3 separate regions of the Homo sapiens genome follow, and regions 2 and 3 are each linked to region 1. The links come from fine-mapping of genetic effects on plasma protein levels. A gene starts in region 1. Each other region holds a variant in brackets. All regions are shown on one strand. Distances are between the middles of the regions.

What was found. PIP is the chance, under the fine-mapping model, that this variant and not a neighbour inherited with it causes the effect. Protein levels are from antibody-based Olink assays in UK Biobank. Linkage for the fine-mapping came from a reference panel and not from the study's own genotypes, which makes the PIPs less certain.
Region 2: its variant is fine-mapped to the plasma level of the FABP9 protein (UK Biobank, PIP above 0.99).
Region 3: its variant is fine-mapped to the plasma level of the FABP9 protein (UK Biobank, PIP 0.96).

The regions. Positions count from the first base shown.
Region 1 is chr8:81,458,640-81,466,828 of GRCh38, reverse strand. FABP9 (fatty acid binding protein 9) reads left to right here and starts at 5,250. Exons shown (of 4, transcript NM_001080526.2): 1 at 5,250-5,378; 2 at 7,492-7,664; 3 at 8,126-8,189. The coding sequence starts at 5,306. LOC101927118 (a long non-coding RNA gene) reads right to left here and starts at 5,371. Exons shown (of 9, transcript XR_001745980.2): 1 at 4,855-5,371.
Region 2 is chr8:81,496,029-81,504,217 of GRCh38, reverse strand. The region is part of intron 1 of LOC101927118 (a long non-coding RNA gene); the gene reads right to left. Among named protein-coding and RNA genes, the nearest start is that of FABP4, 17 kb to the right of the region's middle. The variant C/A (reference allele first, on the strand shown) is at 3,762.
Region 3 is chr8:81,907,596-81,915,784 of GRCh38, reverse strand. The region is part of intron 7 of LINC02235 (long intergenic non-protein coding RNA 2235); the gene reads right to left. Among named protein-coding and RNA genes, the nearest start is that of LINC02235, 69 kb to the right of the region's middle. The variant T/C (reference allele first, on the strand shown) is at 3,624.

The DNA.
Region 1 (8,189 bases):
AGAGAGGCAGGATTAAGTGAGTACCTCTCCAAAACCCACAGTGTGGTCATAGAGTCCACCTATATCTTGAAGCAGATATGAATAGTCCAAAAAGCCAGTCACTCCCTCTTTAGAAACACAGGATCAGGTTAAGTAATGAGCTGGCTATCCCCTCTTCCCTAATTCCCACTCTAGCCATCAAAGGGCTACAATTTCTGATTTAGATATACTCCTTTCAAAGTCTGAAGCATTACTGACCTCAGTTTTCATGTAAAAATTACTTGTCAGTTTTCAGCAGATGACCCAGCCTCTTGCTTAGAACAGTGATTTTTTTCCCCAGTGTCTCCAGTACTAAAAGATGAGGAATGACTAAAGATCTGTTCCTGATTGAAGGAGACTAAAGAGACATGATGGCTGAAAGCAACGCATGATCACGGACAGGATTCTGGGTCAGAAAGGCTGGGTTTTTTCCCTTTTTTTTAGTAGGAAAAGGAAAAACTGTCAGGACAATTGGTAAGGTTTGAGTGGGGTCTGTGGATTAGATAGCAGTATTGCCATCAGTGTTGATTTCCTGATTGAGATCCTTGTTTGGAGAGGAGTGGGGCAACATTTCTCAACTTACTCTCAATGACTGAGCAACAAACAGCTTGCTTCTTATGAAGAGAGAGAGGGAGGGAGGGAGGGAGAGAGATAGAGAGAGGTAGGGACAAAAGTGTTGGAATGTTGACAATTGTGAAATCTGGGCAAAGAGTATATATGGGAGTTTTCTGTGTTGTTCGGGAAGTGTTTTTGTAATTATTTCAAATTTAAAAGGTAACCAAAAAAAACCTCAACCAAATAGAATAAAGTTAGGGGAAGAAGGTGGCATGAAACAAGAGAAAATATCAATTGCCAAAAAATGAATTTGCCTAAAAATTCTTTACATGTTAATAAATATGATATGCATAACTCCTTAGAAAGAAATTGCTATTTTTTAGCGAAGACTTGGACTAACCCAAATGCCCATCAATCATAGACTGGATAAAGAAAATGTGGCACATATACACCATGGAATACTATGCAGCCTTAAAAAAGAATGAGTTCATGTCCTTTGCAAGGACATGGATGAAGCTGGAAGCCATCATTCTCAGCAAACTAACACAGGAACAGAAAACCTAACACCACGTGTTCTCACTCATAAGTGGGAGTTGAACAATGAGAACACATGGACACAGGGAGGGGAACATCACACACTGAGGCCTGTCAGGGGGTGGGGGCCAACGGGAGGGAGAGCATCAGGACAAATACCTAATGCATTCAGGGCTTAAAACCTAGATGACAGTTGATAGGTGCAGCAAACCACCATGGTACATGTATACATATGTAACAAACCTGCACATTCTGCACATGTATCCCAGAACTTAACGTAAAATTAAAAATAAAAAAAAAAAGGAACAGTCCTACTACAGGTGAATTTTCAAGGTGGTCAGCCGCCTCCATATGCTCTTAAATAGTGAGCACTTCAAATAAATAACCTTCACCAAAAACAAAAGAAAGAAATTGCTATTTTTATATATACCTATTAAGCAGTAAATAATAGATAAGAGATGGACTTATTTTGTAACTAGTAAAAATAAACTGGAAGTTGTCATATTAAAACAATTACTTGCTCAGAGTTAATTTGGTATGGTTGTTTTAAGTAAAATTTTTATTATAAGTGAAGTGATCCAGAAGTAAAAACAATGTAAAAATTCTCTTATAAGCCCCATATATAAAAAAATTATTGGAAAAAGTGATGTTTTAAAAAAATATATCTTTTATGTTAAGCAAATAGTCTCTTGAAATTATAACATCAATTCCTCTAGTGTAGAAAATACTAGCAAATGGAAGACTATTTCAATGACAAATATCACATTCAGACTATTAACCAAAGTTAATTTCAAAATACTTGTTTTCCTTATTGGATAATATAATATCGTCTTAAAAAGAAAAATTTTAAATAATTACTTTTCAGAGTCCTAGATTAAATGTACACTTTGAAAAGTCATTATATTATTGCATCTTTAAAATTGAAATTGAATGATGAACACAGTAAGGAATATGATACTTAGAGGTGTCACTGCATGTGGAAATAAGAATCTTAGATGCTTTATCAAATCCAGCTAAAGTACTATATGTGCAACAATAAATTATCAGACATATTTCTGAATACTTGTGTAGCTTCCAGTATATGTTTAACTTTACCAGTATCCATCATCAGTGGCAACCATAGCATCTCAAAATTAAAAATTATTCAAAACTACTTGATGTCTTAAAATGTCACAAGAAAATCAATATAGAAAATGAGATGCTGAAAGTTCATAGAAAAATGACATATTGGAGAAATGAGCCTTGAAACTGTCATAAGAACAAGACATGTAACTATTCTATAACAAACTACAGTATTCTAGTTCCTTTACTAGGATTAACATTAGGAACAATCTGATTAAAAATTTTTTTTCTACTTGAGGAAATGGTGTTCACTTTTTTTATATAATCAAACCAAAGTGCCAAAGGCTAGCGGTGGTAGCAACAGAAATAGCAGAGAACTTTCTTAGTTGAGAAGGGAGACTTGTGCTATATAACTGAGAAAGATGAAGAGAGTCTGAGCATCCCTCCACCATCTGATAATGACCAGAATAAAAGGCCTGTCATAGGACCAGGTCAGGAGAAGATAATGTACTAAAACTCTGTCTTTAGTCACTGTTAGAGAGATAAAGAACACTAATGAGAATTACCAGTTAAAAAAAATACTACTTATTTCTTTGGTCACTCATCCATAAAACATTTATTGAACACTTATGATATGCCAGATACTGTCTTAAGGATACAGAAGTGAGTGGAAAATATTTTCTTTTTTTGATATACTCATAGAATAGCTCAGGAGACAGCTGGGAAATAGCTCTTTGCAGTACTATGAAATAAGCTAATATACTTCTCTTAAACATTTATTTCTATCTTCACGCCATGGGGATTATCTAGCTCTGAACCAGTGTCACAGGGAAAGAGATGTTTGAGTTGGTTCAGGAAGATGGGTCTCTGCTGTCATGAGGCCAGCTCTATGTGATTCATGCAACTGGTTGTTGTGAAGGTCCAAATTCACCATTTGGTGAAGCTATTTACAAAGGCGTAGTAATTATGAAGACTTCTTCTACAAGTAACAAAAGCTCAGAGACAAAACTGTTTAAATAAGAATGGAATTTATTAACTAACATAATATAAATTTTTGAAATAAAGTGGCCTTCAGTTCCTTCCACGTTTCTGCTCTGCTATCCTCAGTTCTGGCCCCATCTTTGAGGAGGTAACACAATGGATGCAGCACTTGTAAATATCACGTGAGATAGAAAAATGTGTAGAGGCAAAAGAGAGACTGTCTCTCCCTTTGGTTCTCTCCTAGGGGTGGGGAATTTTACAGAAGCCAGAATTTTTATTTTATTTTATTTTAAGTTCTGGGATACATGTGCAGAACGTACAGGTTTGTTATATAAGTAAATGTGTGCCATGGTGGTTTGCTGCACCTATCAACCCATCACGTAGGTATTAAGCCCCACATGCATTAGCTATTTATCCTGATGCTCTCCCTCCCCCCATAGCCCTGGCCCCAACAGGCTCCAGTGTGCATTGTTCTCCTCCTTGTGTCCATGTGTTCTTACTGTTCAGCTCCCACTTATAAGTGAGAACATGAGGTGTTTTTCTCTTCCTGCGTTAGTTTGCTGAGGATAATTGAAACCAGAAATCTGATGTTAGCTTTTGTCTCATGGGCCAACTGAGTTCTAAACGGACCACAGGAATATCATTCTATGACAGGAGAATCAAAACAACAAGGAAGATTATGCTGATGGGAGACCTTTGCTACACTACCCAGCTGGCCAACAGGCATAGCAATGTATGCTTGCTTTCTTTAAAGCAGAGAGTGCATACACATCTCGAACCAGTTAAGCAAACGTTTAACAACTTGCTCTATATTTGAACATCACCTCTGAATGCACTTTCAACTGCTGAGGCACTTATTTTGAGCTTGGGTCTTAGTTTCCTGAAATTAACTCCAGGATTTTCACTTACCCTGTTTTGCACTGTAGATAATTTAATAATTGTCCCACCCATAAAGATATCACATTATATGTTTCTTCTTTATATGTTTTCATCAAAAGCCATCCTTTATTCCACTTAAGTTATTGTTTTACAGTACCAAAATATCAACCTCCTGTTTATTTTGTTCACAAACAATATTTTCTGAATTAAATAAATACTTCATACAAAGCAGGTAAAAATATAAATATTCTTCTTCTGGTCCCTGACACTAACTTTCCAACATCTTCTAAAGTTAACTGGAGTTCAAAACCGTAATGTAAATCAACAGCTACTGAATCTACTCCTTCTTACTAAACTCAGTACCTGCAAAGTCCACTTCCATTATTGGGGTTGCAGAAGATGGTTTCAGAAGTAATGGCACAGAGATTGAAACCATTTGCTGCCTTTGTCTTTCTTTTAGAATGCAGATTCCAAACATCTTTTTCTATATGAAACTTGCCAAAATTTTTTCTTATAATTTAAAATATCTTTTAATGTAGAGTTTACTTTGTAAGCCTGAAAGACGAATTTTGTAGGCATTCGCTCTGCTTCCTTTTCAGAGCTTAAATCATATACTATTATCCAATGATAATTGTCACCTTTCTTTCCTGTCCTCAATTACCTTCGATTAACAACAATGATAATATATTAATAATACCCTCCATTTCCCTCCAAGCAATTATAGGCATTTTAGTTACATTAACTAATATCAACCCATCAACCCTGTAAGGAAGGGAAGGGAAGATATTATTTTAATGAAGAGGATGTTTGAGCACTGTGACTTACCCAAACAAAAAACAGCTGAGGTGGACCAAGCAAGGATTTCTTGTCTTAGGTAGGAAAACATCTCAGCCAGGTGTTTATCAATTTGTCAGGATATTCCTCCAGGGTTGACTCAGTATTCATTGTTCAAAAAGCTGATGTCTATTGAAGATTGTCTCCGTTCCACAAGTAATATTTGTCAGGTGACTTGGGTGTAAATCTTTTTGCTAGAAGCTAAAATCATTGACCAGAATTTAATTTTACATGCTAATTTTCTGTCTCTTAATTTGGAGGTAAATAAAATGAGTCAAATGCTGGTGCCTAGAATCTTTAGTCTTGCTGCTGTTGCCCATTGGCCATTTCAGAAGAGTCACGTGATGAAGACGCTCTTTAAATTAAACTACTGGCAGCACCGTAATGCCTATATTTCTTTGGTTTTCAATTACGAGTGGCTCTTCTCAGCAAGTGTTCCATGATGGTTGAGCCCTTCTTGGGAACCTGGAAGCTGGTCTCCAGTGAAAACTTTGAGGATTACATGAAAGAACTGGGTGAGAAATACCATTACAAATTTGGAAATTGGCAAAGCATTTTGTGATGTGATTGGGTTTGTACTTTACCATGAATTTTCCTACAATTATCTTCCTTTTGTGATCCTAGGGTATATAGACTAACACAATGTATGCTTCTACTTTTGCTTTTTTAAATTACTAGTAATAATTGTCTCTTTTTGGAAGACTAGGCCCACAGACACCTCTGTCCAGTCATGATCCATATATTTAAGCCCATTTATCCTTTTTGAAAATACTTCACCTAACTTCTAGATAGAATTTCATTTTAGCTTGGTCATTTCATTTAATAACATTTTTCCCAGCTTCAAATTTATAGACAGTAATCACTACCTACAATTAAATTGATCAATTAAATTTGTTTCAAGGTTTAAGTTATAGCTTTAAAACAGCAGTATCAACTAACAAAATTTCTAGTTGGTTAATTTTTAGAGTTCTCATAAATGTGAGAGATATTTTATAAACATGGTTTTGAAGAATTACAAATCTGAAGAAACACAACATTTTTACTCATTGAATGTCTCACCACTGGATATTCCTCAGAATTATAAACCCTACCAATCCTTTAATCTCTAACTCAAGTCATTTAGTTACACATTAATTATAATGACTTGGGTGTATAATAGCTAAACTGTTCTTTACTAATGGAAGAACAGCAATTATTTCATATTTTTCATATTTAATTAAGAGAAACCTCCCTTGTAGTAAACTGTATACAAAGCCAAGGACTTTCTTATCTTTACTTTTTTTTAACTTACATAACATGCTTAATGGATGCTTACAATTATTAATTATGTTTACTCATTCTAGACAATGAAATAACAATGCCTTATCCCCATAATAAGTCAATGTGCTTATAAATGTAATATTTGTTCCTCTGATGTAGTCAATATTCACTTTCTCAGAGGGTCATAAGAAACAAGTTTTTCTGTCTCTTCATAGATTTATAGACTCACTTGTTTTGAATAAAAATTGGGGGGGTATATAAAAAACTTGGGCCTTATGGCCAGAGTAGCACTTGTGTTGACTGGGAGCTGGGTTTAGGCATAATACAAGCAAGAATAACAGCTGAGCAGTTTCTATGTGCCAGTACCATGCTAACCCCTTTCATTTAACCTTTTAAAACATCCGCTGGCTGGGTACAGTGGCTCAGGCCTCCAATCCCAGCACTTTGGGAGGCCAAGGCAGGTGGATCACCTGAGGTCAGGAGTTCGAGATCAGCCTGGCCAACATGGTGAAACCCCATCTCTACTAAAAATACAAAAATTAGCTGGGCATGGTGGCATGTGCCTGTAATCCCAGCTACTCGGGGGGCTGAGGCAGGAGAATCGCTTGAACTTGGGAGGCAGAGGTTGCAGTGAGCTGAGATTGTGCCACTGCACTCCAGCCTGGGCAACATAGCGAGACTCTGTCTCAAAACAAAAAACAAACAAACAAACAAACAAAAAAAAAACTTGCGAGGTCAAGTATACAGTTATCCACACTTTACTATTGAGAAAACTGAAGGTTAGGAGAGGTAAATAATATGCCCAAGCTAGCAAGTGGCCAAGTTAGAGCCTGGGTTTTAACCATCTCACTCTTCTTTGTGATGCAGATGTCTAACACTGCTTCTCTACAGTAAGATGTGTCATATCAGTTCCACAATCTAAATGTGAAATGGAGTTTGATATCAGGACAGAGAAGGAGTCAGCTCTTCTGCCCACCAACTGCAGGAGTCAAGTTTGACAATGGGAAATTCCCAACCAAACCACAGGGCCAGGCTCTAAGTCAAACTCCTCCCGCACCCACAAGGTTATCGTAACACTCCACAAGGTGAAGTGCAAGCATTTGATCTCTTGAAAGGCACCATACAAATTTACATTTTAGAGGAAGTGTAATAGTCTCAGAGAGTGAATTTAGCTTTTCAAAATGTCACATATATACCTTATGACTGGGAGGATCTAGCTCAGCCCTGATATCACAGAAAACATAAAATAAGTTACTATACATTATCCAAAATTTCAAAATAGGTAAAGTAAGCATTCTTTGAAAATTGACTTCCAGAGTGATTGTTAACAATGTCTTAATAAGGTCCAAGGCTATCTCTGTCTTGTAGGAGTGAATTTCGCAGCCCGGAACATGGCAGGGTTAGTGAAACCGACAGTAACTATTAGTGTTGATGGGAAAATGATGACCATAAGAACAGAAAGTTCTTTCCAGGACACTAAGATCTCCTTCAAGCTGGGGGAAGAATTTGATGAAACTACAGCAGACAACCGGAAAGTAAAGGTCAGAACTAATTCTTCCTGGTGTTCAACAATCAGGAAAAAGTTAGAAGGTGGTTAGGCATGGTTTACTGTAATTTGATTTATCACCAAGTCTGTCTGGGCTTGTTCTGTTAATAGTCGCACATCTCTAAAGTTAATCCTTTTGCTAATTATTTTGATGGTTAACAATAGGGCTAAAAGATTCAAATTGTTTTCATTTCATTTTTTCTTATCTCTTTGTCATATGAAAGAGCACATAGAAAGAAACAACTAAACACAAATAGCTTATGCATTGTTTGCCTAGGAAAGAGCACTAATTGAATAATCTCTTGAGACTTCTAGTTTGATAGTACTACATCATGACAACAAAAGTGAGGATTTTAAGAAAAGAATTTCAAAATAGAAATTAAAAAGTAGATATGTGGTCTCATGTAGGTTAGAAGGTAGTGAGTTGCTACTTCTGATTTCTTTATGCATTTATAGAGCACCATAACATTAGAGAATGGCTCAATGATTCACGTCCAAAAATGGCTTGGCAAAGAGACAA
Region 2 (8,189 bases), 37 kb before region 1:
ACTGGTTATTTCAACTTAGTATTTTTTTAGTTTAATTAAAATTTCTTTGTAGCCAGGAAATAATTTATCCTTTTTTTTTTTTTTTTTTTTTTTTTTGAGACAGTCTCACTTTGTCCCCCAGGCTGGAGTTCAGCGTCTGATCTTGGCTCACTGTGACCTCTGCCTGCTGAGTTCAAGCGATTCTTGTTCCTCAGCCTCCTGAGTAGCTGGGATTGTAGGCATGCACAACCACACCCTGCTAAAATTTTTTTTTTTTTTTTGTATTTTTAATAGAGACAGGGTTTCGTCATGTTGGCCAGGCTGGTCTGGAACTCCTGACCTCAAGTGATCTGCCTGCCTTGGCCTCCCAAAGTGCTAGGATTACAGGCATGAGCCACTACACCTGGCGTATACATTTTTTTTTAATTAAAGAGTCTAGAGAGCTAGACATGGGAGATTAAACTGCATTTAGCTAATGAAAGCCAAACTCCTATGAGTTTAAATCTATCAGAAACTAAGCTTGAAGTCTGTGCATATTAGGCTTTTCAGAGGATCTGATTCACATTGATTGACTATGCACATTAAAATGATCACAAAATTGTTTGCAATGATAGTTTACCTAGTATGGTCAACATCATGGTCATCAACAAAGACAGTCCTTGCTCTCACGATGGCAGTCATAACAGGGACTTAACAAAGATTGTCACCACAAAGCAATTGCTGCATTGGGCAAAATCAGTGTTGGGACCAAAAATGCCTCAAGATTTGGAGAAGAGGCAGAGTTTACTCAGAGAGTAAACTCACTTGAGGACAATTTCACAGAGGGGATGGATCCTACATGAGAGAAAAGACTTTATAGGGGAATTTGGGTGAAGGGGATGGTGTAAACACAGAAACAGTAATGAATCATCAGTAATGATTGATAATAAATATTTGAATGGCAGATTTTAGAACCTTGAGGTACAGAAAGAGATCACCAGATCTAGCCTCTTGATTCTAAGGAAGTAAGGTTTTATTATCTCATTTTGCAGATAAAAATATATTTTAAGGACAAACCATCTGAAGAGGTTAAATTCGGTGACTAAGTCTTTAGTCCAGTGATTTTTAAAAATAAGTTTACTGCATAGGAATCACCTACAGAGATTTTTAAACATGTAGATTTCGAGCTAAAACCCTCGGGAGTCTGACTCAGTAGGTGGGCTAGGGCCTGGGATTTCCATTGTTTTTATAAGACCCTCATATGGTCACCAAATGTGGGAATCTCATTTGGAAAATGGTGCTTTGATATTATAGATAACCAGGGAACATCCTGTGCCATATTCCTACGTTAAGAATAATCCTGATAAATTGACAAATATTTGATTTATCTCATCACTGGTATTCATTACCTGTTTTCCTAGTTTTCAAAATTTCTTTCACAGCTGAAAAATGGAGGCCTGCCATCATTGCCCAGGAATTTGAAAAGTTCTGCAAAAATTTGAGTCCAGGAAGAATGTATTTTGCTTTAGCATCCCACTTAATGTGTTTTTTTGGATCCTATGCAGAGAGATAGGCAGCTACATCCAAAGCTGGATTTAAAGCAGGGAAGCAAATCCTATCTCAAACTAGCTTACAAACGTTGGAAGTTAGAATGTGATGAGGGCAGTGGTATTTCAGAGAAGGGAGACTGCTGTGGGTGTGGGAGATAAGAGGACATATATTATTTAAAAACAGCAAATGATAGCAAATTATGATGCAGTAATAAAGAGAGGAGAGCATGAAAAAAATCACAGGATTGCAAGTCAAGAAGCCTCTCTGTGTGACTGTAGTCAACTTGCTTTAACTTCTGGTGCTGCTTCATCCCCATCCTAATTCTCCCTGTCTTCATTTTTTTTTTTATTAGCAATAATTACACCTCAGATGAACCTCAATGGCTATGTTCTGCCACTGCACAAAGCTCTCTCTCTCTCTTCTTTTTTTTTTGAAGATGATTTCAGTAGCCTTCTAATTTGGTCTCCTAGTCACAATTGCCCGTTGCTCCTTAAACTAAACCACTCTGCAACTAGAAATCACCTTGTTAAAACTTTAACCAGGCCAGGCACAGTAGCTCACGTCTGTAATCCCGGCACTTTGGGAGGCCCAGGAGGGCGGATCATCTGAGGTCAGGAGTTTGAGACCGGCCTGGCCAACATGGTGAAATCCCCGCTCAACAAAAATACAAAAATTAGCTGGGCTTCGTGGTGGGTGCCTGTAGTCCTAGCTACTCAGGGAGGCTAAAGCAGGAGACTTATTTGAACCCGGGAGATGGAGGTTGCAGTGAGCTGAGATCCCACCACTGCACTCGAGCCTGGGTGACAGAGCAACAGTTTATCTCAAAAAACAAACAAACAAGAACAAAAAAACTTTAACCAGATTTCTAAATAAATTTTCCCGCTGGCAATATGTGATGACTTCCCTGTTGCTGAGGGACAAACTCCTTAGCATGACCTACAGCTACAAGATCGCCTGTCCCCAAAGAATGACACCTCAAGCCCTGATCTCCACCCTCCCGCACACTTTCAGCACTAGGTTTTTTTTTCTTATTTCTGCCCATGCACTTGCCCCGCCTCCTTGCCAGCCTTCTCAAACTTCTTTTCCTTCTGGTCAGTCCCTACATTGTCCTTTCTCTCCTCCTCCACCTGGCAAGCTTGTATATATTCATCGTTCTACGTTTAGCTCAGTGACACTTTCTCAGGGAAGTCTTTCCTACTCTCTGGATGGAGTTGGCCCTTCCCTAATAATTCTGGACTAAGTACATCTAGTTTGCAGTGGCATTTGTCTTTTGAAGATCCTCCTGGAATTTCCCAGCCAAATGGGTGAGAAACACTATTACTGGCAGGTGTGGGCTTCAAAGGTAATTCTCCTCTTGTTCTCATTGGAGGTAGAACGGATCAGTCAGTCATATTCTTGTGCTATTCTCTTTCTATGAACGTGTATAAACAAGAGGAATGAATGGGAAGGCTCACATTTCATTATAGATGATGATCATCCTCTTTCCTACTTGCAAGTTCTGAAAGATTTCTTGCTGGAAGCCTACCTATCTGTCCCACCATGGTGAATTAAAGCAAAAACGTTGGGCTGATACCATTATTCATTTGAAAGATATTTCAAGACCGTCCCTTCATCATCCCAGCTCACAAACCAGTAAAATCTCCCTTGAATACATTCAACAGAGTTTCTTATTGAGCAAAGAGCTTGAATAGGCACAATCATGGAGGAGTCATGAAACCAGGAAAAAATAAACAGTGGAGCCAGATAGACTTTAAGTGGTATAATGCTCTGTTTCTGCAGGATTTTCCACCTCAACTCCTTAATCTCATTTTAATCTCTATAGCAGTCATTAGATTCTAATACCGTACACAAGGCCCAGCAACCTGTTTTGTTGCTGTGGTTTTATGCTAAGTGGTTGATGTGGCACCAGGTTTGGGAAACATGAGCGTGGAATTGATAACTCTCATCTGTGTAAGCAGCTTCATCCAAAATTCTTCCTCTGCCCGAACTCCTACCCCTACCTCCCAAGCAGGTCCATGATTATGTTAGATCCTTTTTAGGCTCAATGAACTCCACATTTCCTAGCAAGTGAGCAATGGAAAAATGATGATCCTTGCTTTCTGAACTGGAAACACAGGCATAACATGGTTAAAGGGAGTTCCCCCTTGACTTCTGAGGCAAATGAGAGAGGAGCTGGAAAAGTGCCTGATGCAAGTGATTAGATCAAAGGGAATTCTTCGTCCCATGTCAGGTGCTGTTCCCCGTAATGCACA[C/A]CTTGCAGTGCACAAAGTTAATAAGTGCTGTGGCCATCTATAGTTGTTCCTCCTCAAGGCCACCTCCTAATAGCAATAAATTGTGAGATGGACCTTCTTACAGCTAATTAAGACCTTTCATCTTAGCCTCTTTGTTTTTCAAAATCTTTCTGTAGCAATTCAATAAAATTACAACTCAGCTATCCCTTTGTAATTACACCAGGAAAGGTTTGTGAACTAATTATTTCATGCATTCAAGCAGTAGAAGGGTAATTTATCAGGATGACAACATTGGGCAATTGTTCCTAAATCTGACTAAGTATCCAGCTCCAGGTGTGCTCTTGCTGTGTCAGGACTCCCTGCTTGACCCTAGGCCTCCAGATCTCTAAAGGGATGGGATCTTAAAGGCTATTTTTTAAAAGTTACCCTTGCCGGTTACATGATTAGTTCTGTTTCAGAAAGACTTGTCTAGTGCCCTCTTGCAGGGCTTCTTAACATCAGTCTCCCCTTGAGAGACTGTAAAAAGTGCAGATTTCATGTCCAACTCCAAGGGATTCTCATTGCTGGGTGATGTCTAGAAATAGGCATTTTTAACAAGTTGTCCAGGTGCTTTTGAAACAGGTGGCCAGTGTATTTCACTTTAGGGAACACTGCTCCATTAAGGGTTTGGCCAAAGATGGGCACAGGGTGAAAGAATATGACACATTTGTGAGGCTCAGCTGTTGTCTCTCCAAGGCCAGTTGCAAAGCAGTCCTCCAAACATGGCATCTACTTGCGTCTAGACACACCAGTGCCAGAGAGAGAATGAGGGTGGGGAAGACGACTATGGGGACAGGGCTGGGCTCTTCCTGGTGTATCTTGCTGTTTAAAGGCACAGAACCAGGCAGACATTCACGCCCCCCCCCCCCAACTCATCTGCTGTAACAGCTCCTCCCCAGCCTTACCCGCAATGTCTTCCTGGCTTGCATCTTTCCCTTTCCCCAATTTGATTTCAGCTCCAACTTTCATATTGCTACTAGAATTATTTTTGTAAAAGGTAACTTTTGTTTCTCCAGGAATTAACACTCTTTAAGCATACACAATAATTTTTCCCTACCAAATCCAGACTCCTCTGCAAAGGGTTTCAGACCGTTTGTCATTTGGCCTCTTGTACATTTCCAGCTTTACATTCTGTGCTGATTCAAATAGCACGAACACATGCCTCTGCCTGCAACATGCTTTCCGTGACTGTCTGGGAGACTCTTCAACTTTCAACCTTAAACTAAAGCATGATTCATCATGTGAAAGCATCTATGACCTGTCTGAGGAGAATTACTTTTCTCTTCGAATCTTGTACATACATGTGCCATAGCTCCTATTACTCTATATTATATTTATTTATTTTAAAGTCTATTCTGCACAAACGACTGCAACCATGTTTCAATATTATTTTATCCTAATGTTTATTCACATTAATATTAATACTTATTAATATTAATAAGAGTAAAAGTAATAATAGCTATTCAATGATTGCTAATTACTGTGGCAAGCTTCTATGCTTTATGAGTTATGTGAATTATGCCACTTAATCCTTCTGCCATGTTAAGAAATAGGTTCCACCCATAAAAAACAGCCAGTTAATGTTAGACAAAAGGTCTGTCTGACTTCAGAGTAGGCACTTTGTATTCAGTAGGCTCTTAGTAAACATTTGTTGAATGAATAAATTATTGGTATATAAATACATGAATGAAAAAATGATGCCAAGTTTTCAGAAGGGTTGTTAAGTAAAAAGTTATGGCTGTTGCTACTAGCAAATGACCTGCAGGGGGTTCTTGGGCAGTATTTTTATTAGCAGAGAGAGCAAAAAGGAGGTACCAAAAGTTGTTTATTTTTTTCTGTCTGAAAATTTCTTCTTCAACAATGAGGCTCACAAAGAAAACTAGAAGATAGATATTGAAATAAAATTCATGTGTGAAGAAATACACAGGAAAAAAATGACCTTAAAAGTTAAGTCAGTGGACAGAGGGTGGAACTGTGCATGGTATTTTGACCTGTTTATGCCCTGGTCACTCAGAGTGCCCCCCGCCATGGCTGAGGCCACTCCATCCTTTCTGGAGTCTTAGCCTTGCCTCTACTTCTGGAACAAGCCCTGTCCTGGGGAAGCCCAAGTTTCACTGAGTCCTTGCTCAGAGACAGCCTCATCTCGCCCTCTGATCTTGCAGCCCAGGCTCCAAGGCATTAATGTCCCAGTTCTGGTAATTGGGCTTTCTTCTTGTTTTGGGGACCCGGTGCCTATTTTGTGTAATAGATCCAGGGTGAAAGCCACTGTCTTACCCCAGTGGCTGGCCTCATGTTGTTAATCAGACTCCTGGTCAAGTCCCAAGTGTGCCTTGTCCTAGAGATCCTGCTACCTGCATAAGAGGCCCACCCAAGAGTGCCTGCTCACCTGGCTCTCCGAATGTGCTTGGCACTCTAGTAAAGGTATCACATCTGGCACATCAGCTTAGATTGGCGAGTTCATCTGGTTAAGTTGATGGTAGTTTGTCACCATCTGCCATGATCTATTTAGTTTTTGTCAGGGGCTAGACAGGTAAATGGAATAAGAATAGGATAAGGACCACAGTCTCTGCATTCTTAAAATCTTTGGTGGTGATGCCAATACAATCCTTTTAGGAATGCAGTATTATTTATGATTTACCGTCTTGGCTGCTGTGGAGACCAGGGCAGAGGAAATAGCTGAAGGCCCAAGAAACAACAACGAGAAAATCTAAGTAGATGCTTGAATGTGTCCAGTATAGAGGGTGAATATTATAACTGCCAATAAAGTATACATCAGACTATAATTTAGGAAAAATAGAAAGACACCAAGAAAATAAGTTTTCAGTATGGAAGAGAACATAAAAAGTTAACTCTGTTTTGAAGCTGGTTGACTCAGTATCCATGTGACTTTGAACAAGCCATATAACATACTGGGACCCTATGTTCTCATCCATAAAATAAAGAAAATTCATTGGAGGTCAATAACAGCAGCATAATTCCATGATTTTTAAAATTATTTTCTTGATGTCATTATAAAATCTGAGTAATTGAAGGAATCTAGGGGAAGAGTAAAAAGTAGTACATTTATAAACAACAATATACTTTATACTTCATGAAAGAAAAATAACATTTTGGAAAAATTAACTTAAAAATATCAAAAAGTAAAGCCTAAGTACTATGTGTAAAATTATCATATACCTTCTTCTATATATTTAAATGTTTTCATTTGCACTTCCAAATCATATTATTAGACAAGTATCTAACAATTAATATAAATAATGTACTTTTAAAAAGATATGTTCACTGAAGTTTTATGTTCCAGATATTTCTGCAGCTATGACATAATTGTGTTATACTCTGGATTACTATTTCTGTGGTAAGGGTTATTTTAAAATAAAGGCAATACGCTTACTTAAGTAAAAAAACATGAATATGGGAACTGACAGTGTGTCATGGACTTGATTTAAAATAGCCCATGTTCTGGAGTTCAGAGGAACTCAGAAGTATGTCAAAGGGCAAGGGGGAAAAAAAGCCATCCAGAAAGAAGTGAGGACAATGTCCCTTGGTCTGATTTGTGAGAAAGTAAGAATTACATTTGCAGAGTTTGGCAAGACAACTAGGAAAAAGAGCAAGAGCTAGAATAACTTCTTCCAAGTTCCAGGGCAATCAGAAATCAAAACCCCAGAGGGACCTGGAAAAAGGGAAATTTCACTTTGGAATTACTGGGAATGTTTAAGCTCATAGTCTTGCCTGATAATCTTATTAAAAGGATTCTGATTCTTTCCTTTGGCTAAACCAGAAAAGGAAAAGAAATACAGTCTTTAAAATTTGGACATGTTAGGGCAAAGAAAAAAGCATTTCCAATTAGATGTTTTCCCTAAGCCAGAACTCCTTCCTTTCGGAATTTAAGAAATAAATAATTAAGACAATTTAAAGAATATAAATATATTCCAGAGAACATCTTGGAGCAGCAACACAAATATTAAAAATATAGAGTTAAACTTCAATGATTATATGAAAAAGCACAGGCTTCAATGTACAAATGAACTTACAAACTCCACAATTTTTTTGCCAAAACATTAAATTATTTCCCCAGAAAAAAAGGACATAAGAGAAATCCTGAAAAAAATCAATTCTGTCAAAGTAATGCATGATTCTTTACACACACATGCAGTGTTAATCTACTCAGAAATAATCAAGGGGTTCTCTTTATTTGCACTAGATGAAAATGTTGCTACCTAGAATTTTCATTCATTATTATTTAACACTAGTAGCAATTATTAACAGAGATTTTAAAAGACATTTTTAAGCATTTGTATTCATCGATATACCTCTGAAGAACGATTGATATTTTTGTCTGGGCAAACCAAATTATTCTTGGTAGAATTCCTTGCTCTCTGCAATACTAATGATTGGAGGCAGCTTCATCAT
Region 3 (8,189 bases), 450 kb before region 1:
ACATGGCTTAGGAGGAATCCTGGGCTGGGGGCATTCCTTGGCCCAGTGGCCAGATTTCTGGCACTTGAATTAAGATCCAGGGGGAGGAGGTCCTGAAGGAAGCCCTGACCACTGTGGCTTAGGCGTTTTGAAGTTCTTGTGTGCTGGAGATGTGGCTGGAGTTTCTCTCACAGTGGAAGCAAGGAATTGCAACTCAGAAATACATTGCTACTTGGCTGTCTCTATTATTGTACACCTTGAAGGCAAGGTTAATTAAGTCCTGTGGTGGGGTTTGAGGGCTGGAATCTAATTTTTGGAGCTTTTTTTTTTTTATGTCAGGAGCTGACTGGGTAACAAAATGCATATTGAGAATAAGATGGACTTCTGGCCCTTCTGGGTCTAGGGCTGTAAAGCATCTCAGGATTGCTGCCAAACGGGCCATGAACCAGGCTGGGTTTTTCATATTTGATGAAAAAGAGCCTAAACACTAACTGATTTGGGAGAGGTCAAATAAAGAAAATGGAGCATTAACCTTGGCTATGCCTTCAGCTCTAGCCACCTCTTTAAGAGGAAATTGTTGGGCAGGTGGGGGAGGGCTAGTTGTGGAACAAAACTGTAAGCCAGACTGGGTGTGGGGAGAGGAGGTGATAGAAGGATTACAGGGTGGAGGAGCAGAATCTGAGGAAGAATTGGAGTCTGATTCAGCCTGGTGGGGAGTGACCTGAGGAGCAGTCTGGGGATGAGGGGAGAGGTCAGATGGATCGGTAGAAAAGGAAGATTGAAAAGACTCAGCAATGCTTGGGGTTGGGACTGAGGGCACAGGCAGGAGGGAAAGAAGGAGGATTTGGGACGAAACGCATTGGGAACAGAGACTAGGGAGGGACCGATGTGTAAAAGAATGCCTGGACGTCAGACACCTCAGACCATTTGCCCATTTTACAACAAGAATTATCTAGATCTTGTAGGATGGAAAAATCAAAAGTGCCATTTTCTGGCTATTTGGAACTATTGTTGGGTTTGTATTGGGGTCAAGAGGCATTTCAGAAGAAAATAAGGCATTTAGGTTTAGGTCAGGTGTGAGTTGAAGAGGTTTTAAGTTTTGAGAACACAGGCTAAGGGAGAAGAGGGAGGAATGGAGGGTGGAAGTTTGCCCATAGTGAAGGAGGCAAGCCCAGAGAAAAGAAAGGGTAGAGACATGGAGAGAAGTGGTGGGGGGTGCTTGCCCCCCAGGAAAGTGGAGAGAAAAGAGAGGGTAGAGACAAGGAGAGAAGGAATTTCACAAGGTAATGTCATCAGTTAAGGCAGGAACCAGCCATTTTCATGTCTTTTGTGATTCTTCACTTTCTTCAGGCCATCTGGATGTATACGTGGAGGCTTGGGCTCAGAGGCCTGGCACTGCTGATCATCAGTTTCAGGTTTTTCTGTTTATTGGGAGACTGCCTTTCCCTGGCACTGGCTGTGACCAATTATTATTTTAGAGAGGCAGTTTAACAACTACCTGACCATCACCTGATGGTTGCCTGACATTTCTGGTGGGATGGGGAGCCTCTCTTGCCCTGCTTATTTATGACTAGTTACCTACCATAATAATAGCAATGATATCAACTATGAATTACATGTATTGAATATTTATTATGTGCCAGGTATTTTGCCTCTACTATCTCAATTAAACCTCAAAGAATCCTCATTTTATAGATTTTTAAACCAATACTTAGAAAGGATATCTAAATTGTTCATACCTAGCAAGTGATAGGATAGGGATTTAAACCAAGGCAGTCTGATTCCAAAGCCACCATGTTTAAGCAAGCTGCTACACAGCTCAAAACAAAGATTTATGCATAAAAGAGTAAGAGTGGCAGGTAGATTTTACTAGAGCTGAGCTCAAATATATAAACCAGGCATCAAAAGAAAAGGATGATTATTGGTCCTACAAAGAAAAATAAGGAAAGGGTAATTAACGATCTGTTGGACCAGTACTAAATAGAATTCAAAGGTGCCTTAATCCCTTCTGGAAACATTCTCTAAAACTCAAGATTGATACAGGAGGTAGTTAGGCATAAACCACAATTAACCAGTGCATGGGAAAGGCAAAACTAAGGGTTTTAGGGAAGTTGAAACTTTGCCTCTGAAAATTTGAGTCTAAGTCTGCTGAAATTATTTGACAATTTTGAAAATAAACACAATTTAAAAGCTGTTGGAACCCCCAAAACACTTTAAGCCTTAAGAAAGATGTGACTGTGATCTGAGTCACATATGGTTACAACTTCTATTTCTCAGATTATAAATTAACTCACTTTCTTATTTATCTTTTTCTTCACAGTGACTAGACAGAATTAAATGATATCAGGGACACAAACCTCTGCCTTTTAGTGACCCTTGTTACAGATTAATTTCTCATTTGTTGTCCTGCTTTGCTTAGACCAGATGACAGAAAACCCATGACTATTATGCCTTCCGTAAAAAGTGTTAAATATACCCTTCCCCAAAAGAAAAACCATCTGTAACCAATCACATTGCTGTAATTATGCTCTAGCCTTGTATGTAAAATGTTGTAATCCTGCTAAAACTCATCTCCCTCTGCCTATCTAAATGAAACCTAAACTTTCCTACTTCTGAATTCTAATTCCATCCCTTAGAAGTTGGTATTTCCAAGAAGGCTATCCTTAAATTCTGCACTTGAATAAACTCTCTTTAAATTAGATTCTGACTCTTTTGATTATTTTAGGTTGGCACAATAGATTATCAGGAGAAAAACAAAACTCATTGTATGCATAGGCATGGGGACCACACACAAAAGTATGAGACTCAAAGAAATCTCACATTTCTTTGAGAGTACTGAAGTTTTAATACCATATGGAAAGGAATAGAGGCTTGGAACATGGAGATCAGTTATGGGAGGGAGAGGGGAGGAATTGCATATCAAGCAAAAAGTATCTTGTTATGCAAATGAAATCTCTCAGGTAGCAGCTCTCAGATTAGATAATAGCCTATAGTGAAAGTTTCTCTGTTAGAACTTCAAAAGTGTCTCTTTTTCCTAAGTTAATCTTTCCTAGATCAAGATAATGTAGATAAGGTCTCAGAGAAATCCTGTTCGCATCTACTGTTTACTTCGCTAATGTAGATTTCCTCTACAGATGTAAATCTCCTCCACAAAAGGACAACTCTTCAGAACTATTCCTTTGTCTGTAGCCCCTCTGAATATCCATCTCAAAATATGCCAAAAAAGTATATTTTGGGGTGAGATACTCTACTTTCCTTCAGGGTGAACATATTTTAAGAGTTTACTTGTAAGTCATGGACATAAACGTGGAAATAATAGACACCGGGGACTCCAAAAGGAAGGAGGGTGGGAGTAAGGGTGAGGATTGAAAACTTACCTGCGGGTTACAATGCCCACTATTTGAGTAATGGGTACACTAGAAGGCCAGTCCCCACTAGTAGGCAATGTACCCATGTAACAATCATAAATATGTACTCCTTGAATCTAAAACTAAAAATTAAAAGTTTAAAAAAGAGTTTACTTATAAGTGATTTAAATTTTTATTAAGCATATTTTAATAAAAATAAATTTAAATCAATTCCCATAATGAATAAAGTATTAAAAAAAGAAAAGGAATATGAAAACCTACATGAATCAAAAAAGA[T/C]TGACATAGAGATTTGCATGGAAAATGGGGGTGATGGAATCATGTGGTTCAATATTATATTGGTTTCAATGGGCCATTAATATTCATTTTTATGTTCAAATTGACATTTGTTTTCCTCTTTTCTATAATTTTTATGGTGGCAATTACATATTCCATATCTGCTGACCCATGAATCAGATATCCAATGAGACCCTCAGTAGTCTGATCCAAGAAAGGAATTATCTGGCCTTTTGAGGAATAGAGAGTAGAATCGACCTGACTGAAAATGACTCAAGATTCTACCACACCTGGTCTATATTGAGATATGGGTTTTAGGACCCTTTAGAATTGAAATACCATCTTCTTGGAGAATTTCATTTCCAAGTTTTGTGAATGTTAAATATAATGAACCCCAAGTTACTCTTCATATGTTCAGCTCTGTTATTCTTTTATTCTCCATTTTAAAGTTTAACTTCCTGGTTCTGTTCGCTCCCTTGCTTCTAATTTCAGTAAACAACTTTCCCACCAGTCCTAATTAGTAGTTCACATCTGTTCCCTGGTCACCTGCTCCATCCTGACTCATCCTGATCAGCTGCTTTGACCTAAGTCACTCCTGGTCACCTGCTCTGACCTAAGTCACCTCTAGTTACCTGTTCCTAAACGTCCTTCCCACCAAACTACTCACCCCACCACTCTGGCTCATACCCCTGACCTCTTTAAAATAGCCAATCAGAATTAGCTTAGACTGTGCCATCCAACCGTAGCCAATAGGGGAACAACACAGCAGTAGGGGCTACCTGCATCAGGAATAAGAACTCTTTCCCCTCCCCTGTCCAGGTATGCTCTTGCCATTACTCCATTCACAAGTCGCACCCTTCTATAGAAGTAAAAATTGCCTTGCTGAGAGAATTAAATTTATGTTCGAGTGCTATTTCTTTGCAGCACCAAGAAACAAGCATTTTGCATTTCTAACATGAATACATTTAAATATTAAATTTATAAATAGATGGATTGGTGGAAAAGTAGATAAGTGGCTTTCTCAGAGAACTCGTGAATATGCAATGTAAACTATGATGTGAGAAACTTAGTATAATCAAAAAGAATGAATTAAATTCAAATTTTTATCCAAAATAATACACTTTTGAGATTCCATCAGTAAATTGTTTGCCAAAATTACATAGGCCAAATGTAATATTCTATAAGACATTTCATGGCTTGTAACTTTGTGTGTAAAAACAACTCTTTAACTCTCTTATTCTCTAATTTGGCTCAATTTTTCTAAAGTTTCTCTTTTATATGGCCATTCAACGCAGCATGATTGCTGCATATAATATAATATGACAAGATTGCCCATTAACTTGTTTTCTAAAATACCCTTAAGTAACTGAGTTAATACAATATTTAGAATGGAGCAATCAGGTGGGAAATCTTGCTCTTAACTGTAGCGACTGCTGAGCACATAGATTACAGCAGTCTCCCTTCAGCCTTTTATTCATGAGCCTTCAATGACAATTTGTTCCTCCAGGAATCTAGTGCTCCAAATCAAACAAAAATTTTAAAGACAATGTTTTCTTCTTTAGAAAACAAATTTTAAAATATAATAAAGAGAATTATTCTGCTTGCTTTTTCTTCCTGTGTCTATGAAAACGTTCATACCAGTCTCCATTAACTGCTGAAGTGTGAAATGTATTCAGAACTTTAAAATTAATGTAGTTAACGTATGTTATTTCAGAAGAGAGTTTTTGTAAATGTTGGTCTTTTAAACCTCAATTTTTTCTTATCTAGTAAAGTGAAAATGTAGGATATACTGTTAAATGACATTTCTCTAACTACAACTTAAAGAATCAATTTTTTATCAATAGATCATAAATATTTGTATCTACCAGACATTATATATCGTTTACAACAGAATCTCCTGAGTAGTTACTATTTAATGCAAATTTCTAAGCTGTTGTCTAGATTTACTGAATCAGAATTTCTGGATATCAGGCAAGGTAAACTACATTTTAATTAGTCTCCCAAAGGTTCTTTGGACATATTAAAATTTGAAAGTGTTTGAATTATAGATTCCATAATTCCTCATCTGGATTCCTGGACTTATTTACTGAAGCTTTGTGCAGTGAAAAATACATGTATTTCTACCATATACATACATATGACAAATAAGTTACCAAAATATAATATTCAGATTTTAAATGTAGACTCATTATTTATAATATATTTTTATTTTCAAATATATAAGCCATAATGAATGAGATTTAAGGGAAATTTGATTTTTATTATTGTTAATGGTATTTTATTATTGTTAATGGTATGTGTATCAACCTTAGACCCAGAGCCAGATCAATGAAGTCATTACTTATTTATTCTTTAAATAATCTTATGCCAATCCTTCTACTAAGTGCTGGAGATACAAACATGTATTACACATAGTCCTTCTAGCATTAAACAAAAAAGACTGAAAAACAGATCTCAGCAATATAATGGCTTAATGCAGCACTAGAGATATGCAAAAGTATTTCTGGAAGCACCAAAGAGTACAACTATCTCTTGTTGGGTGGAAAATGAATGGAAAGTATAAAGAAAGGTTCCTTGGAGATGACACATGGGTTGGAACTTAAAAGTAGGAATTAGGTTGCATAGGATGAGAGTTAGAAGCATTCTAGGCACAGACTGTAGAATGAACAGAGATATAGAGATAAGAAATAGCATGGTATGTGCGATAAACTGAGTCATGTAGTGAACTGAAGAGAAAACGGAATGTCAGGAAATGGTTTAGATTTGAAACTTGAAAGACAGGCAAAAGCTAGATCATTAAATGCATAGTGAGAGATGTAAATTGTCTTGGACTTTAAATAATTTTTATTCTGCTTTTCCCTTCTCTGGGACTGAAAATACACATTTGATAGACTACTTGATATTGTCCCAAAAGTTCACTGAGACTGTGAAAGGAAAATAAAATTTTGGGACACCAAACTCACTATATCAAAGGGAAGTTCAGCTTGGGAACAGAGTCACACAAAATCTACCTTCCTTTTTGTTTCTAAACAGATAACTACAAAGATAGGAAGCCACATATCTCTCTAGATGGCTTCCTTCATAAATTCCTTCCAAGAGAATGGCTTATGGACAACAAAATCTTTACCCTAAAACATAATTTTGTTGAATTTCATCCATGTCCCTGCAAAGGACATGATCTCATTCCTTTTTGTGGCTGCACAGTATTCCATGGTATATTTGTGCCACATTTTGTTTATTCAGTCTATCATTGATGGGCATTTGGGTTGGATCCATGTCTTTGCTATTGTAAATAGTGCTGCAATAAACATACGTATGCATGTGTCTTTATAGTAGAATGATTTATATTCCTTTGGGTATATACCCAATAATGGGATTGCTGGGTCAAATGGTATTTCTGGTTCTAGATCCTTGACGAATCACTATACTATCTTCTACGATGGTTGAACTAATTTACATTCCCACCAACAGTTTAAAAGCATTACTATTTATCCACAGCCTTGCCAGCATCTATTGTTTCCTGACTTTTTAATAATCACCATTCTAACTGGCATGGTTTTGATTTGCATTTCTCTGATGATCAGTGATGTTGGGCTTTTTTTCATATGTTTTTTGGCCATATAAATGTCTTCCTTTGAGAAGTGTCTGTTCATATCCTCTGCCCACTTTTTGATGGGTTTTTTTTTATTGTAAATATATTTAAGTTCTTTGTAAATTCTGAATATTAGGGTCTAGTAATTTTTGATTAGGTGATGGATAGTGTGTATTTTACATTGCTGGGGTCTAGATTTTGGTCTGATAGGCAGTATATTTAGTTGATCCTTTTGAAGCTTGTTTTTAAGCTTTGAAGAGAGGGTATTAAAATACTCCCTCTCAATGGGTGTTCCACAAGATAATTAAACCCTAATGTCTAAGGCAATGCTGTAGATAATGAATTAATTTCTCTCTAATGTATTTAGAATGGTATTATACCAAGCTTGAAAGAATTAAGAAAATACTTATTCATATTATGTTTCATAAAACCTCAGTTGAAAAAGACAATTTAGGCACATGACTAAGGTATAACCCCTTTGACATCTCCCCTAAAGGCCAGGTGTTCAAAAAGACTCTTGATTCTAGCTGACCAAAACTCAAATGTCTCCCGGCCCTGTACGAATTCTAGAAACTTTTCAACTTACAGCTTTCCAGCAGTTTTTTTGCCTGGCCTCAGGGAGTTTCTTTTACATAGGCACAGCTTAGTATTTAGCAACAAACTCTACGGGATTCCTATACAGATTTTTTGACATTCTTTCTGCATGCAACTTTAACCTCTTTGTTATTCTGTTCACAAATTCCAGATGCATCAGTCTTCCTGTACACTAGACTCTGTCTGCTTAATTCAATGATACCACTGTGCTCTGATGGAGATAACCAACCCTGCACTGTAGTCCAGAAAGTGCCTGAAAGCAGAAAGCTGGGACTTATCTGACTGTAGGCTTATCTTATTTGTTTTCCTTCTTTCAGAACTGTGCCAACTGCTTGATCAATATCTGAAAATTGCTGCTTCATATGTAGTCCAGTTTTCTAGTT